Linked DNA regions of Homo sapiens: region 1 is linked to region 2. A link means that fine-mapping ties the variant in region 2 to the plasma level of a protein whose gene starts in the linked region. Region 2 holds a variant in brackets. A gene starts in the other region. All regions are shown on their forward strands.

Region 1 (8,862 bases), not on the chromosome of region 2:
AGGAGTTTCTTTCAATAGCTGGAGATAAAACTTAGCTAGCATGTTCCTGAGTGAGGGCGTGAAGTGGTGCCTGGAAAAGCCTGGAAAATGGCAGAGAAGTACGGAGGCCTGTGCTCCCTCAGTGTCCTAGGGCTCAGTGTATTTGCAGAACTGTTTTGCATGATTAAGTACAGTCCTAGTGGGTTGGTGTTGAGGAGGTGGGGAGCTTAGGGAGAGGGGTGAGGGAGTGGAGGGGGTTGGTAACCGGAGATGTAGGAAAAAGCACTTTGTGTCATGTCGTTTTGTGATTCTTTGTTAATTCATCCGGTAAACATTTATTGTGCCCCTGCTGCATGCTATAGATGCTACATGCTCTAGATGCTAGAAATACAGAAGTGAGATAGAGTAGGGGTGGTCACTGTCATTGTCCTTGTCCCGTAAGTCCTAGATATCTATATGTTCTCATGTTTAGATCCCATGAAGAAGTCGTTTGGAACAAGGACTTACCTCCTTGTGACAATGAGACCAGGATTCTTCTGAAGCACACACCCACTGTCTCAGCCCAAGTATGAGGCCCAGTGTCAGAGCTTCAAGCAGCGTCAGGGAGAAGTCAGGTTCCTGACCATCTGTTTACAGAGGGAATCCCTTGTACCTCCCATCCTCAGGTTCTGCCATTATCCCATATAGCTAGTGATACTTGGGAAAGAATTGAGGTGCCCCAGAGAATTTCAAAGTCCCCTTGGCACACCAGGGAATATTCTAGAGCTCAACAAGCTTGGGACCAAGGAGATAAGCCATCCTGGGAGACCCACTTTCCTGACTCTCCACCAAAGATGCATGTGCCCCTGTGATATTATGAAATACATATTTGGTCTTCAACTCTGCTTCCTAGCATATATCTGCTAAAATCTTTAGAGTCCCCAGAGTAATGTCTTTTTGTATTTTAATGAGTCTGTCATGATTTAACCTACATGCCTGCCTAACGAAGCCTCCATAAAAACCCAAAAGGATAGCATTTGAAGAGCTTCAGGATAGCTGAATGTGCAGTGGTTCCTATGAGGGTGGGGACCTGGAGAGGGCATGGAAGTTCCATGCCTTTTCCCCCACACCTTGCCCTATGCATCTCTTCATCTGTATCCTTTGTGATATCCTTTATAATAAACTGGTAAACAAAGTCTTTCCCTGAGTTCTGTGAGCCACTCTAGTAAATTAATCAAACCAAAGAAGGGGGCTTATGGGATCCCCAATTTATAGCCAGTCATTCAGAAGCACAGGTAAAACAACCTGGGCCTTGAGATTGGCATCAGAAGTGGGAGCAGTCTTGGGGACTGATTTCCCAACCTGTGGGATCTGAGGCTATCTCCAGATAGACGGAGTCAGAATTGAACTGAAGGACACCCAGCTGGTGTCTACTGCAAAACTGATTGCTTGCTTTATGGTTGGGGGTAATCCCCAAACATTTGGCCACAGAAGTTTTCTGTGTTGATTGTCATGGTGTGAAAGCAAATTAAAAATAGAGTTTGTTTTTTTTTCTCTTAGCCACTGACTCATTATGAGCCCACCTGGAAACACCCTCCCCTTCCTGCACTGCTTTCTGCTGTGCTCAGCCAAGCAAAGCATCCCCTACATAGACCACAGGGTATAAATAATACTCCATCTCTTGTGGTATCACAGCCAGGTCCAGTGTCTGGCTCCTGGGAAGACCATGGGCCAGAGAAGTCAGGAGAAAACACATCCCAACTCAGAAGGGCTCCAGAGTGGATTTCAGGTTCCCTTTATTGACTCCAAAGAAAAATCCTGTCCAAATAGGGCCACATGGCATGCAGCACTAGCCACAGATTTCCTCCTTTGGAACTCTCCAAAGGTAAGAGGAGGAAACAGCTTTAAAAATGCAACCCGAAGCTTCTTACCTCTGCCTTATGGATCTAGATCCTTTCCCACTATTGCACAGTGCTATGCCATCTGCAATTCCAACCATTCTAAACCAACTGCTTATTGTACTTCTTAGAGTAGTAAACTTTGATAGGCCTTTGTTTCACAACAATTGTTTCTGAAACTTCTTTTTAGTCCACATCTATGGGGTCTGTGATACCAGTACAGTGGATGACTTTATAGTCTACGAAAAATGGATCCCTGGAAACCTCTTTTCAAGGAGTAAGATTTTGCCACTGATTTCAGAAGAATATCTGTGAGTCATCCATTTGATTATCTGAACAGATGCTGCTGACTTTTGGCATCGTAGCAGAAGGCATGAGTCCCCAAGGTGTGCTGTAATCAGGCAGCATGTGCGGCAGGTCAGCCCAGGGAACAGTAATTCTCAACCACAGACATGTATCAAAAGGGGAAGCAGTAATGGAGCTGTTGCCCTGCCGACTGGTAGCTCGTTCCAGGGCAGAACTTTAATTAGTGGCTCCCTTAACAGCCAGGCCTGCTCTGTGTATATCCATAAAAAGCCATCTGAGCACCAAAGTGGCCTCTCCCACTCATTAATGGTCACCTTTCTGCCTGAACCACAACGATCCTGCTGACCCTTGATTTCAGGTGGAAGTGGCTTTTATTCCCTCTAACCCTCAAAGATGGTTTCAAAGCATTTCCTTCACTGGCCCAAGCCCAGAATTCAAGTTAAATGGCTTTGCCAAAGGTGTGAACTAAATGAAGGAAAGTTCTTCTCCTTGGGCTCAGGCAATCTGCAGTCAGCGGGAGGAGTGAGTGCATGAGCAGGAGTGGGGAGCCCTTTGTGTTTTCTGCAGACACTGCTGCAGCTGCTGTGCCTGGAACACACAGTCCCCAGGAGGCCCTCCTTCCCCAGGGCAGCCACACTGTCTCCTCACCTGTAAAGGTGAGGTGTGGCAGCAGTCTGCCAGTTCTCTCCACTGCCACCTGTAAAGCTGGCTCACCTTGGCATCCCAAGCAGTTCTCCCCATAGAGCAAATATGCAAGGTTCCCTTGCTGGATCTGCGTTCCATTAAGGCCTTCTTGGTTTCCTGGTCAGGTCTGCAGTCATCCTAACTTCGTTTATGTTTTATTCCACACAGTCTCTTTTCCACTTTCAAACCATAAGCAGCTGGCACCCTCAGTTGCAGCAGATGACCTTGTCTCATCCTTCTGTGAGCACACCTGAGCTCCTTACCTCTCTTCTATTTCATTTGCAAATGGGTGCCCTGAGGTGCCTCTCCTCCCGGGGCATGGTCCCTTGTGTTTTCCTCCCAGGCAAACCTGCTCCTTGACTCTTCTTCCTCAGGGTCTGGTATAATATCCATCAAGGGATCCTTTCTCAGCCATGCATGTGTTAATGTGTTCTCTCATTCGTGGGCAAACATGAGTCCCTGTTAGAGGGGGTCCTGGCCTGAGGACATGAAGATGGAGTGACATCTCAGGACTGCCCCCGAGGCCCCTACAACCCACTCTGGTCCTTGCATGACCTGTTGCTTCTCTGCTGTGATGAATATAAGGCCTAGTGCATGAGGTCGTGCAGTTCTGGCTGGATAGAGAAGCTGGGGAGAGCCAGTTAATCCAGAATAGTAAGTCATAGAGCCACAGCCCACTTGGAGGAGACAGCAGTGGAGCTGTACTGGGACAGGACACTGGGAGTGCAGTCACAGGTGTCACTGTCAACCAGGCACTTGCCTTATTAGCTGGGTAACCTTAGTCAAGTCTCAACCTCTTTCAGGCATGGTTTCCCATGGGCAAAATGAAAAACAGTAATGGTTGCTAAGACTAGTAGTATTGTAAGAAACTGAATGAGATGGTTGTGAACTTGCCCAATATTGTATAAATAATAAGTGAATTTCTCCTAATTCTGGCTTTCCTTCCTTCCCTCCCTCCCTCTTCCATCCTTCTTCTTTCCCTCCTTCCTTCCTTCTTCCCTTTCTTCAATCCTTCTTCTTCTCATCTTTCTTTTCTTCCTTTTCCCTATCTTCTTTGTTCCTTCCCTCTTTCCCTTCCTCCCTTCCTTTCCTTCTTCCCTCTCTTCTTACTTTCTCTCTTCCTTCCTCTTTTCCTCAATTCTTCTCTTCCTCCTGCCCTCTCTTCATTCCTTCCTTCTTTCCCTTTCCTTTCTTCTCTTCCCTCATTCTTTCTTTCCTTCCTTCCTACATTTTTTCCCTCTCTTTCATCCTTCTTCTTTCCCTCCCCCATTCCCTCTCTACCTCTTTCCATCCCTCACTACCTTCTTCTCTTTCTTTACTTCCTTTCTTCCTCCCTCCCTTCCCTCTTTCCTTCCTTCCTCTCTCCCTTCTTCCCTCCCTTGCTCTTCTTCTCTCCCTCCCTCGCATTTCTTCTCTCCCTCCCTCTGAATTGCCTTCCCTTTCTTTCTCCCCTCCCTCCCTCCCTCCTTCTTTCCTTCCCTCCTTCTATTGCTGCTTCCTTCCCTCCTTTTCCCTTTCCCTCCTCAATTGGTCCTATTGGCTCTAAGAATAGAAGGATGAATAAAGCATAGCCATTGCCCTTAAATAAGCAACCATTTCAGAGGTGAGTACAGATAATGCAGAGCTATGAAAAAGTTGACTGTTATAAGGGACATTAAAAAAACAGTTGACATAAAAAAAGTTGACATTAAAAAAAAGTTTAAGGGACATAAAAAAAGTTGACATAAAAAGTTAACTGTTACAAGAGACATAAACCACTCTCTGGGGAGAAAATAAAGGTAAGATTAATTCTGCCAAAAGGGACAGGAAAGGTGACTGGCCTAGAATCCTGCCTGGAACCCACTTGCTCTGCATTGCTCAGGGTTGGCCCTGTGGCCAAGCTCAGACTCTCACACCGGCTACTAAATATGACTGTACCTCAGCAGATGGATTTAACTCTTGCACACAGGAAGAAAATGGAAGCAACAAACTCAGTTAAAACGGGGCATGAAAGCAGAAATGTGCTATATTCCTAGAGTGCTTTGGGCTTCCTATTCATTCAGAGATCCTCTCTCTTCCCTTTTAAAGGTGAGAAAACAAAGAGCCTGTAACACTGAGTGACTTGTTCAAAGTTGCAAAACTGGCCCCTGGTGGAACTTGGATTACACTCATGTCACTTCAGTCCCTGACCAGAGATCTTTCTGCTCCTGCCTTGCACTCTAGCCTGGAAAAAAGGAAAGGATGGAAAAGTAAAGAGGAAGGGAAAAGCAAAAGGGAAGGGGAAGAACAAGGGGAAGTGGAGAGAAAGAGAAGGGAAAGGGAAGGGAAGGAGAGAGGAAGGGAGGGGAGGGGAGGGGAAGGGAGGGGAGGGGAGGGGAAGGGAGGGGAGGGGGAGGGGAGGGAAGTGAAGGGAAGGGAAGGGAAAAAGGGGGGATGGGAAGAGAAGGGAAAGGAAAGCAAGGAAAAGGAAAATAAGTGGAAAGGAAGAAAGGAAAGAGGGAGGGAGGGAATAAAGGAAAGAAGGAAAGAAATGAGGGAGAGAAAGAGGAAAAGGAGAGAGACGGAGGAGGGAGGGAGAAAGGGGAGAAGGAGGGCAAAGGGAAGGAAGGAAGGAAAGAAAGGAACAAAGAAGGAAGGAAAGAAGAAAAGTTAATCGCAACAATTCATTGCACTGGCAATAAATAAATTGTATATTCCTTCAACGCCTGCAAAGTCCCCTATATTTTCTCGAATTACTCAGCTCATCAAGCTGCATGGGTATTGCTCTTCTTCACAAAGGACAGCAATCCCTTGGAAACTGCTTTCCTCCCTCATTCTATCAGGCCTGTAACACTATCTCTGAGAATATCTAACAGAACAAAGCCATTTGGACACTTGGTCACTTAATTCATCCTCAGTTTTGTCAGGCCTCTTCTTGAAAACTTGGCTATCTCATATTCATGGCTCTCTACTGGAAGCAGCTGGCTGGGACAAGAAGTTTCTGATTCAGAGAGACCGGTGATTGAGGTGGGATTAATAAAGGGACATCATTATTTCCTCAGCTGAGCCCCCAATCAATTTTTCAGTTAGAATCCTGGACACATAATGTTACTGTTTCGTTCTTATTAGTCACATGTGTTTGGGGCTACCCCATCGTAACCACATGAGAGTACTGTTGGCAAAACAAAACAAACAGGATGTTTAATGACAAGAACAGAATTAGCTAATAAGTCAAATAACAAAATTTGTAGCCTAACCAATGCTATAAAAGCACTTGATTTTATAGAACCGAGGGCCCATTTTGCACATTACATATGATCACACCTCGAGCCGTGTTTTTATTTTGGTGGTGTTGTGAAAGGTGTGATATTTGGATTAGAGCATCATAAAGACACAGAAGCCATAACTGATTAGAGCATGTGATGAGAGGCAGGTGGGTGGGTAGGCAGCTGCAGCCACAGCAAATGTGGCCTGTCTCTTTTCTGAGGGTAACAAGAAACGAAAGGGCCGAGTGTGGTGGCTCACACCTGTAATCCCAGCACTTTGAGAGGCCGGGTGGATCATTTGAGGCCAGGAGTTCAAGACAAGCCTGGGCAACAAAGCAAGATCCCATCTCTACCAAAAAAAAAAAACAAAAAAAAAACAAAAGAAAAAACCTAAACGAAACAAAACAAAACAAACAAACAAAAAATTAGCCCTGTGTGGTGACCTGTACACCCAGCTCCTCCGGAGTCTGAGGCAGGAGTTTGAGGCTGCAGTGGGCCGTGATCATGCCACTGCACTGAAGCCTGGGTGACAAAGTGAGATCGTGTCTCTAAAACATTAAAAAAAAAAAAAAAAGGAAAAATGAGAGTGAGAACTGAAACAGCAGAAGGGCTCAAATCATCCTGTACATAGAAATCCTCCATCCAGGCCAGGCGCGGTGGCTCACCAGCATTTTGGGAGACCGAGGCAGGAGGATCACGAGGTCCGGAGATCGAGACCATCATGTCCAACATGGTGAAACCCCGTCTCACTAAAAATACAAAAACAAAATTAGCTGGGGGTGATGGCGGACGACTGTAGTCCCAGCTACTCAGGAGGCTGAGGCGGCAGAAAGGCATGAACCCGGGAATCGAGCTTGCAGTAAGTGGAGATCGCGCCACTGCGCTCCAGGCTAGGCCACAGAGCGAGACTCCGTCTGAAAAAAAAAAAAAAGAGAGAGAGAGAGAGAAAGAAATCCTCCATCCAGCCCTGTTGGTTGTGTATGTGTTGGAGGGGGTGGAGGGGCAGCCTTCTCAGGCTTTCAAGGAGGGCTCCCTAGCACCTCAGCTAAGATTTGTTTGTCTATACTATTAAAAGATAGACATAACTGTGTCCCAAACCAGCCTCCCCAGTTCCCACCAGCCAGAGCGCCTGACCTTGCAGGGAAGCTTATCTGTTTACCGTCCGAGCACTTTCAGGGATTCTAAAATGCCGTGAGTGGGAACCACTGCCATGGGCCATTTCCATGAAAATTCAATTTCGGGGATTAATTTGAACAGGTACTATTGACGTTTTCTCGTTTACACAAGATCAAAGAGTAAAAACAACCGGGCCTCTGCTTAACAGTTGAGGATTCTAGCAAAGTTAGGAAACAGGTTTCTATTTGTAGTAGAAGAGAGAGCAGGCAGAAAGAGGAAGATGGGAGCGGGGAGAGATTGGCAGAGATTCAGAAAGTTCGCGCTTGAGATTTTTACGTTTCTTACTCGTAAACGTCTATTTCTCTGGGTTTCTGAATGCAAAGACGAGAAAGTCTCAACAGTCTGCTAAACTAACACGGCCTTCGAATCCCAATCTGAACACAGTAGCTGAAACAAGCTGTCCACAAAGAGGAAAGCCAGAGGGGGCCAATTAGGAAGGAAGAAATTAAAGAAAAGAGAAAAGCCAAGATGAAAGGTCCAGCGCAAAGTGAATGACTCGACTGGAGAATGGCAGCCCTGGCAGGGTCTGCGGCCGGCTGCGGAGGTGGGGACGCGGCCGCGCGGACGAGTGACAGGTTGGTCCGGCGCAGCAAAGGGAGCGGGTGCGGCGGTAGGGCCTCTCCGGGGGCAGCGCGAGGGCCTCCCCCGGGGCAGCGCGGGCCAAGGCGGGGCCTCCAGAGCGGGGGCAGCAGAGGAGGGAGCGGAACGGGAGCCGGGCGGAGGCGGCTGCGGCAGGGGGAGGCGGGAGGCGGGCGCGCTAGCTCCCATGCTGGCCTCGGTGCCACTCGCGCGCCGGCCGCGCTCCGGGCTTCTCTTTTCCCTCCGACGCGCCACGGCTGCCCAGACATTCCGGCTGCCGGGTCTGGAGAGCTCCCCGAACCCCTCCGCGGAGAGGAGCGAGGCGGCGCCAGGGTGGCCCCCGGGGCGCGCTTGGTCTCGGAGAAGCGGGGACGAGGCCGGAGGATGAGCGACTGAGGGCGACGCGGGCACTGACGCGAGTTGGGGCCGCGACTACCGGCAGCTGACAGCGCGATGAGCGACTCCCCAGAGACGCCCTAGCCCGGTGTGCGCGCCAGGCGGAGCGCGCAGGTGGGGCTGGGCTGTTAGTGGTCCGCCCCACGCGGGTCGCCGGCCGGCCCAGGATGGGCGCTGGCAACCCGGGCCCGCGCCCGCCGCTGCTACCCCTGCGCCCGCTGCGAGCCCGGCGTCCGGCCCGCGCCCTGCGCTCATGTATGTAGGTTTGGCGCCGGTCTTCAGGGCTGAGGGTGCATGCTGGGTGTCCCCGCGCGGCCGGACGCGCTCCAGCTGGGTTCAGCCGCTCAGCTGCTCCGGAGGAACCCCCTCCCCCGCCCAAGTTTGTGAATATGGGCGCTTCGCCCAGTGTTGAGGTCGGCAGGGACCGGGCAGGGGGTCAGCAGGGCCGGGCACGTCCGGAGCCCTCAGGGAGGAGGGCTGAGGGGGAGGGGACAGACGCACCGGAGTGCGCAGAGTGGGGGCGTTCGGGGAGTGAGGCGGAGAGAGGCTGGATTGCCGGTGTCCTGCGGCGTCTCGGGCTCTCCCAGCCCCTTTGGGCGGCAGAAACTTTGGAATCCAGAAAGGCTGGCCGGGATCCAGCG
Region 2 (8,843 bases):
CCTGCCCCGGGCTCCAGCCTGGGCCTTACCCGGGCATCACTGAGAATAGCGTCTCCTTCCACTTGTACGCAGAGCTTCTTCGGTTCCGAGTCACCACCACGTGTTCAGGGGATGCGTGAACCCATACCAGGGGGTTCTTGAAGGTCACTTCGATCCATGAGAACCCAGCCTTCTCCCTCTCATACTGGCCAGTCACCTCAACCCCTGGGAGGACCAGACCAGAGAGGTCATAGCTGGGCCCCAGCCAGGTCTGACACCGACCTGCATGGGGAGTCCCCCCTGATCACACCCCCTGGAGTTCTGCAGCAGCTCCCTCCCTCATCAGGAGGGGTGCCCCTTTCTCAGCACTCCTTCACACTGGGGGCTGGCTCCCACAATCTCTCCACTTGTCCCTTGGTGTCTAAGGCTTTGGAGGGGCCCCTAAATCCTCGGCGACGGCCACCCTCAGTTGAGGCCTTTGAGAATTAACTTGTCTCCAGTCAATAAGCCTTCAGAACGCCCCATGGAGCGCCTGGCCCTGAGCTAGATGCCGCGGCCAAGGGTAAGATGGAGAATTGGTGCTCCCTGCCCTCAGGAAAGACATTCCTAGCCTGAGTGAGGAAGTGGGTGACACATGCATCTGAGGAATGAGAAAGCCATGGATGTCCCTTGGCTTTGAGCGGGGCTGGGCGGTGCGGGGGTGAGCACTGCTGAGTGGAGTGTGTCCCCATGTCTGGTCCAGGATTGAAGGGGCAGGGCCCAGCCAGCACCCCTGTCTCTTCCTGCCATTCCCCTCATCCACACCTTCTAGGTCTCATCTTTTGGGGCTCTGTACTCTGCAGGCACTAACTCCTCCATCATCTGGAACATCCTCATGCTGGTCTCTGTGCACCCGCCATGGCCCTGCCATCCCTGTGTGACCCCAGGCAGCTCCCCTGACCCTTGCCCCACCCTGGCTCCTCCTCTAGGCTCACCTCCACATGGCTGCCATGCTTATCTGTGCCTTGGCCACCCACACCTGCACACAAGGTGCCCAGTGGAAGGTCCCCGGGGTGTCTGTGTGAGTGTGTGCCCATGCCAGCACTGGGAGGCAGGACCATGCTATGATCTGGGAGGGGCCTGTGTGGGGCCAGCCTGCACGCGCTGTGTGTGTCTCTGTAGGCAGGTGGTGGGTGTGTGCCAGTGGTGTCTGGGTCTCTCTGGGTGTGCCTCTCTCACCTTGCTCAGGGTCTGAGAGCAGGTTCACTGGCCCCTGGCGGTGTCTGGGGTCCACACAGAGCCGCTCCACACTCTGCCCAGGCAGTGGCAGGATGGCAGAGGGAGCCTGTATGGGGGCTGGGACAGCCGGGGCACGGCTCCTGGAGCAGGAAGGGCAGGCTGGGGGCAAGGATGTGGAAAGGGGCCAAGGGGGCTGGGAACTTACCTGGGGTTTGGGTTGTCATGGTTGTTTCTAAAAGAAGAAAAAGTCTGGGTTTAGGCAGCCCCTTCCTGAGGAGTGGGAGGTTGAGGGAGGGAGCAGTGACTAGGTGTGGCTGGGTTCCCTCACTACTTCAACATCGAGACATGTGACAGGTCACTCCCCTCCCAGGATCCCCCTGTTAGGACAGGGCCTCTGGCCTTGGGGGCACCTTCGATTTTCATATTCATGACACGAGACACAGCTGGATCAGGATTTGAGGTGGCTGGTGGTGCTGAAGCAGGCACTAGGGCAGGAACATCCGGAAACAGAAAGGGAGCAGGAAGGCAGTCAGGAGGCGGGCAACCAGCAGCGCTGCCACCAAGCTCCAGCCCCCCATCCTGCCACACATACACTCCACCTAGAATGGCCTTTGTCACAGGAGATTTTCAAACAGAAGAGCATGCTGTCAGGGATAGGTCCAGCCTGGCTGTGCAGCTGCATTCGAGTGCAGATTTGGGGATCAGAAAACAGTTCAAGGGACCTCTGTTGGCTTTCTGAACGGAGGAAGCCCTCCCTTCCTAGAAGGTTTCCTCATGAGTCAGCCTCTAGAGTATAGTGGATCCTACTCAGTGAAAGTAAAGGACAGGTGAAGTCCTGCCTTGGGGAGGGGAGGCCTGATGTCCATACACTGGGTAGTGGGGAGAGGGGCCTTCAGAGAGAGGAAGCTGGCAAGGACTGCTCCAAAGAGCGCTGTGATGTGCATGCTTGGCCAGTCCGTGCCCCTCTTAGGGCCTAGGGTCCCCTCTGAACAAGGAGTGTGGGAGAGGCTGCTCTGTCATGGCCTGTGGTCTGACAACCTAGGGGCAGCTAAAGGACCCGGGTGAGCTCGCATCTGAGGAGATGAGACGCTAAGGATGGGGCAGGGGGCAGCTGCAAAGAGCTGGGAAGGCGAGGACAGCCTCCTTAGGAAATGCACTCCCACCCCAGCCCCAGTAAATGATCCCAGGTTGAACTGACCCACAATTACTTCACATCGTGCCCTCAGCAGCCGTCCCTGGCCTGGCCCTGTGGTGCGTGCTTTACCCCACCCCCCTCTATGGGGCAGGCTCAAGGACCACCGTGGGAAACCGAGGCCCTCGCAGGGCCGGAAGGCAGCTTACAGATGGCCAGACGGCGGAAGGGGTGGTAAGCAGCATGGTCAGGAACATCAGGAGGTCCTGGGAGTCCAAGTTGCCTGGAGCTGAGAACCCCAGGTCTGAAATTCATCCGGGAGCCAGCAGCTCCAGCTTTGGAGAAATCGACAGATGCAGTCTTCTCTCAGGTGGGGTGTGGGTCTTCACAGCCAGGGCTTGAGATCCACCCAGGAGTGGGTGCGGAGAGGGCAGCTATGTCCCCTCTCCCCACACCCGGCCAACTTGGGGAGCCTCTCCCCCAACAGCTGGGAGATGAACAATAATGGACCTCCCTCAAGCTCCCCCCCAGGGATGTCATGCCTCCCCCTGGCAGAAACCCTCAAACTACCTTGTCTATTCCATCCTCTTCTTGGAGAAAAGGAAGCCTCTGTGTGGTCAAGTCCTGATCAGATACAACTGAACTGAGGCCCGAGGGCTGTCACCAGCCAGAGGAGCTGGGCAAGGCACTACCCTCCACAGCCAGGACTGAGCCCAATCTGTCAATCTCCCCTCCCCCCACCTCCTACTTTGTCACCTGGTTTTGGTATTTTTGCTCCCTGGAGATAATATTTGAAGAAAGTGGAACCTGGAAATCAGTGGGACCTGGGTTTGCATCTTGCACCCACCTTCCTGTGGCCCCACTTGGATGGGGACTGTATTCTTAGTGCTGGGGACAGGGCCTGAGGCACAGCCAATATTTGAATGCACAGGCGACTAAATGCACCAGCATGCTGGGTCAGATTACACTGCCTCCTGGCAGCAGGGATGGGCTGGAGAGGCCTGGGTGGACCTGGGCCCTGGCCAGCAACCTCACAGGGCTGGTGCCCTGGACCCTGTGTTAGCAGACCACCACCCAGCACAGCCTTTGAGGATGTTCGCTGCTTACCTGAGTGGACATTCCTGTTTCTACTTTCTGGATAAAACAAAGAGAGAGAGAGAGACAGACAGACAGAGACACAGACAGACACCGTCAGGGTGGTTTTCATCAATTTGAAGCGCTTGTGTTTAATCTTGCTACCCAATCCTGGACTATATCGTAGGTGCAATGAATTTGGGGAGACAGGAGACCCGGCTTCACTTTCCTCATCAGTGAATAGGCTGAATCTCCCAGGGGGAGTCTGTTGGGGGCACGGTTGGGGTCTTGGTCAGGATGCAGGGAAGATCGGGGAGAACGCTGGGTCCAAACTCTGCTACCTGGGAGGCTGAGATCTCAACCCCACACCCACCGCCTTCCATGGGCTTCTCAGCAACTTGAGACTGCTCTTGGTCATCGGGTTTGGTGACTACCATAGATGTGAGAGGCGTGACAAAGCTGTAGGCAAGTGATAAATTCAGCGCTTGGTTCCGGAGGGCCTGCTGATCAGCATCGGATGCGGAGACACTGTAGGTGGAGCACATCAGAGCTCAGGAGATCCTTGAATTCGGGAACAGATTTTCCATCCAGCCCCTTCTGGGGAGGTCCCTCTGGGAGAATCTGGAGCTTGGACATGATGCCAAGACCCCCCTCTCTCCATGCTTAGGCGCTGTACCGTGCCACCTGTGCCTGCCCCCTAGCGACAGGCTTAGGGAGGTGCTGATGCACTCACGTTTGCTCCAGCAGCTGCTGGATAGTCAGGTATGCCCAGAGCCTCTCCATGAAGTTGTGGAAGATATACTTGGGGCTCTGGAACTCCGCCTCCTGCTCTGCCACACTGGACTCCGTTTGGAAAGTGATGTTCTGTGTAGGCTGGAAAGAGGGGCCCAGCCAGGGCAGGAGCAGTGAGGGCCGGACATCTGCATCTGCCTGGCACTTCTGAGCTCTTCCATGATTGGGGCTGGGGCAGGTCCCACACACTGACTGTGGGGACTGCATTTCCTTTGAGTGGGGGTAAGGAGGGGGCTTAGGGGTGCAAGGGGCTCAGTCACAGAGCATACAGGGATGAGAAGGAGGTGAAAAGGTAGCAAAGTAGCCCAGATACAATAAGGCAGGCACAGCGCCAGGACTCAGATCAGCCAAACCTCTGGAAGAAAGGGATGGGAACCCCAGGCCAGTGTAGAAACAGCAGCAGGAAGGATTTGCAAGTGCAGTGTGGAGCAGGAAGGGTCTAGCTACAGCCTGCCCTTACCCCCAAAGCTGAGGGAAAGGGACAGAGAGGGAAGGACCTTCCCAGGGGTCAGAGGCAGAGTTGAGAACACAACTCAGATGTCATGGCTCCGGGTTTGGGGCCCCATCCACCCCAACGGCTGTCCCTGTCCAAGCTGGCCCCTCTGCGGCTGGCCACCGTGGGACAATGACAGGGAAGCATGCACCCAAGCTCTGTGTGAACCTGCTCCCTCCTCCCTCAGGGAGGGGCCTGTGGTCTCAGACTGACCTAGCTCGCTGCCTGGGAAATGGGCTCCTAGGGCAGAGGAATCCCAGGCCTCTCCCACCAGAGCTCCCTGAGTGGCCAAGAGACCTTTTCACAGTGCGGATCAGATCTGCGGTCTGCTCCCACTGGAGCAGCCTGTCTCTCGCCCAGAGCCTGGCTGGCTTTCCAAAGCTTTGGCACACATAGGCTACCTGCATGAATTTTGCCCCATCCACACATACAGCTATTTAATTGATATTTTTCCTTAAATGAACTTTAAGTAAGCTAACAATTTTTACTTGGCTTTATGTCCATAAAATCTTAGATCTGGGCCAGGTGCGGTGGCTCACGCCTGTAATCCCAGCACTTTGGGAGGCCAAGGTGGGCAGATCACGAGGTCAGGAGACCGAGACCATCCTGGCTAACAAGGTGAAACTCCCTTTCTACTAAAAATACAAAAAATTAGCCGGGTGTGGTGGTGGATGCTGGTAGTCCCAGCTACTTGGGAGGCTGAGGCAGGAGAATGGTGTGAACCTGGGAGGTGGAGCTTGCAATGAGCCGAGATCCAACCACTGCACTCCAGCCTGGGAGACAGAGCGAGACTCCATCTCAAAAAATAAAAAAAAAAATCTTAGGTCTGAAGTTCAGGTCATATTTTTCAGAATACACATTAAAATAAGTAAATAACCACTAAAACAAGCCATGTCTGTCTGTGAACTCCCCTGAGTCACCTTGGGTTCTGTACTTTGGGAACCCACGGCCTCCAAGCTAAATCACCTGCTGACATGTATGGAGTGCTTATCACTGGACATCAATCACAGTGACTTTATGAGGGGGGCATGCGACTTATTCCCATGTTTACATAGGAGGAAACTGCAGTAGATGGAGGTTAAGTGACTTCTCCATGTCTCCTATCTGGGAGGTGGCAGAGCTGGGTTTGAAGCCAGGCAGGGTGGCCACGCAGACCGTACCAACAGTCATGACACTTGGGGACTTGTCCTGAAACAAGGCCATGGGCCCCCAACGCCCACTCCTATTCTCTTCACACACGCTGCCCTCATGCCACAGGGGCCTAACATATTCCTCCATTGCCCCATCTGGACTCTTCCCACCTCCTACTTATCCTTTTGTCTCTGCTGGGCCTCCTCCAGGAAGCCCTCCCTGATCCCCAGGCCAGGCTGGGGCTCCTGGTGCTGCTCTCCTGAGTCCAGGGTTAGATCCCAGCCTGTAGCTGGTTTGTGTGGTGATATGTCCTTGGGTTGTCTCTCCCATGAGGGCACGGAGGGGTCAGCCTCATTCACTGCTGCATCCCAGGGCCTGAAGAAGGCCCTGCCGCAGAGCTTGTGCTCAGTTTCTCTTTGTGGAAATGACAGGGGGTCCCTGGAAGGAGGCAGGGAAGGCTGGGCAAGGACAGGGTGCCACGTGGCAAGCTGGGCTCTTGGCCTGGTTGCAGTGGGGCCCGGGGAAAGCTGCCTGCCCTGCCTGGAGCTCAGTCTGCTCATTTGTGAAATAGGAGCAGCCCTCCCTGTCTGACTGCAACCTGAGAGGGTTGTGGTACCAGGACAGGAAGGGATGACAACTAGGGAGGAATCCCTGCCCTCACCTGTGCTTGCAGGTGCACAGACCGGCTGCCGAGAGCCTGTATGTGCTGGTCTCATGAGAATCACTCCATTGTCTCATTGAATCCCTGCCATGCCCCTGTGTCATCCACAGGCAGCAGAGGGGAAAGCTGGAGCTGGGCAGGTCTGGGATTTGAGTCCAGCCCCTCTGGCTGCAGAGGTGGAGGCTGCCATTCCCCTCCAGGGTGGCTTTGGCCACACTCACCAGCTTCCCACTGACTGTGGCTGTGAGCACATCAGGCCCCCGGTCCTGGAGCTTCCCAGCCACCACCATCTCTGAGCCCTTGAAGAGGAGCCGGAAGTTGTTCTGAGTGACCTCCTCCACGGCATTGCTTGGGTACTCGAAGGTCACTGCTGTCAGCAGTGGGTTGGCCACTTCCTGGTAGAAGTCCTGCAGGGTTGGGGGTGTCATAAAGGCTGGGCTTTATGACTGCCCACTTCTCTGTGCAGCCCACCTGGGGCACACTGGCACCTGGAGCTGCAGGGCAGAGTCTGAGTCCTCATGGATGCGCCGGGCCAGGCCGCCATTGTCCAGTGCCAGCTTCTCCAGGAAGGCATAGCTGACGTCGAAAC[C/T]GAAGCCCAGGCAGAAGAGGCTGTACCGGCCACTTACAGCTTCCCGCACGTTATTCTGGATGCTCCTGGGGTTAGTCTCCCCTGGACCCAGGGGTTTGGGATGAGGGTGAGAAAATAGTGATTTGCTTGAAGAATATTTCTGGAACCTCAGAGCCGAGGGGCCTCAGTGACCCCCTCTCCCTGCCCAGATCCCACAGCAAGCCCAGGTGCAGCCCCAGCCGCCTCCCCTGTGCAGCACGTCCTGGAGTCACGGGCAGGGCCCTCACCCACAGTGGGGTCGCCATCGGTGAGCAGGATGATGAGTGAGACACTCCCTTCGGGCAGCCGCTCCTCCTGGTTGCTGCTGTCCAGCAACTGCACAGCCATCAGCATTGCATCATTGATGTTGGTCCCTGAGGAACACGCACTCTCAAGGTGGTCCCCAGCCAGGAGCCCTGGAAGCCCCCACCCTGCAGGGCCACAGAGACACTTACCTCCCAGGGCCTGGATGCCCGCAGCAAAGCTCCTGGCCTTGTTCACGTTCTCGGCTGAGGCTGGCACCAGTGATGGCCTCCACTGAGTTGCTTCTGTACTGAAGACGATGAGGTTGAACTGGTCTCTGGGGCTGAGGTCATCCAGGATCTTGATTAGGGCTTCCCGGGTCTGGTCAGGGAGAGGAAACATAGGTGCTTCAGAAGGGCTCCCTGAGGGCTCGTGTGCCCTAGGGCTGGCATCCTTGGACTCCTGTCTCAGGGGTGAGGTCATGGTATCTGCTCTAGGAACAGGGGCTGCCCTAGGCTCTGGCCAACCTTGGTTCCTGAGAGCCACCCGCCCCATGGTGCCGAAAGGTGAAGCAAGGGGGTCTGCCTGCCGGACCACAGCTGATAGCGTGAAGGGCCTGGGAGTTTTCAGGGCCCTGCCCTGGGCCACAGGACCTACCTGCTGGATTTTCCTGCCACTCATGGAGCCGCTCTTGTCAATGACAAAGACCACATTCTTGGGCATTGTGGTTAGGCCCTCGGGGGCAAAGTAGTGTACAAAGTAGCCGTTCTCGATCTGTGGCCAGAGTGAGACCCACCCAGGCCATCAGAGCTACAATTGGCCCTATCCCCATTCAGCCCCTTTACCCCAAATTCTGGGTTTCTGTGCTCTGTTCCAATCCCATTTCCATCCCACTGCTAACCTCCCCAAAACCTTGCCCTTTTTCAGGGCTCAGACCAGCCCCTTTCTTGCGGAAGCCTTCCCTGCTCATGCATAGCCCACCAGAACTCTCCCTGCAACTTTTCCTTCTATTTGTTTTAGTATTTCAGATGGTTTATACTAAAAAGTTCAGACATCATAAACCTGACAACCATCAAAAGAGGGAAGACTTCAAAAACATGGAGTAAAAGGGAAGTATAATAACAATGGCAGAAATGGCTGGGTGTGGTGAATCACGCCTGTAATTCCAGCACTTTGGGAGGCTTAGGTGGGAGGATCACTTGAGCCCAGGAATTCAAGACCAGCCTGGGCAACCTTGTCTCTACTGGAAAAAAAAAAAAAAAAATTAGCCAGGTGTGGTGGTGCACGCCTGTAGTCCCAGCTACTAGGGAGGCCGAGGCAGGAGTTTCTTTTGAACCTGGGAGTTTGACGGTGCAGTGAGCCATGATCATACCAAAATATAACAACAATAATAATGCCAGAAACTAGTGTGAAAGAAACTACTGCAAATCTGCATAAAACTGAGTTGTGAGCCTCCCAGCAGCAGAGGCAAAGAGGGAAACCCCACAGGGCAGCTCTTCTCAGAGACAAACCT

Which allele goes with the higher level. Alleles are on the strand shown, and positions count from the first base shown. The strength of an association depends on the size of the effect and on how common the allele is.
For the plasma level of the protein whose gene starts at base 8,001 in region 1, allele C in region 2 goes with a lower level than allele T (strong association).

The links. PIP is the posterior inclusion probability: the model's chance that the variant is causal. The UK Biobank Pharma Proteomics Project read protein levels with antibody pairs (Olink). The fine-mapping took linkage between variants from a reference panel, not from the people measured, so its PIPs are less certain.
Region 1: VWC2 starts here. The variant in region 2 is fine-mapped to the plasma level of the VWC2 protein (UK Biobank, PIP above 0.99).

What each region holds. Positions count from the first base shown.
Region 1 is chr7:49,765,638-49,774,499 of GRCh38, forward strand. It overlaps VWC2 (von Willebrand factor C domain containing 2), which reads left to right and starts at 8,001. Exons shown (of 4, transcript NM_198570.5): 1 at 8,001-8,476. RefSeq lists an enhancer at 1,370-1,619.
Region 2 is chr3:52,816,855-52,825,697 of GRCh38, forward strand. It overlaps ITIH4 (inter-alpha-trypsin inhibitor heavy chain 4), which reads right to left. Exons shown (of 24, transcript NM_002218.5): 7 at 7,988-8,104; 8 at 7,543-7,711; 9 at 7,336-7,461; 10 at 6,969-7,150; 11 at 6,702-6,887; 12 at 4,137-4,276; 13 at 3,777-3,931; 14 at 3,437-3,463; 15 at 3,086-3,136; 16 at 2,900-2,938; 17 at 2,539-2,664; 18 at 1,608-1,682; 19 at 1,403-1,429; 20 at 1,198-1,314; 1 more. ITIH4-AS1 (ITIH4 antisense RNA 1) reads left to right here and starts at 7,081. Exons shown (of 3, transcript NR_046615.1): 1 at 7,081-7,139; 2 at 7,258-7,483; 3 at 8,351-8,460. RefSeq lists an enhancer at 2,771-3,759 and a silencer at 7,405-7,562. The variant C/T (reference allele first, on the strand shown) is at 7,070.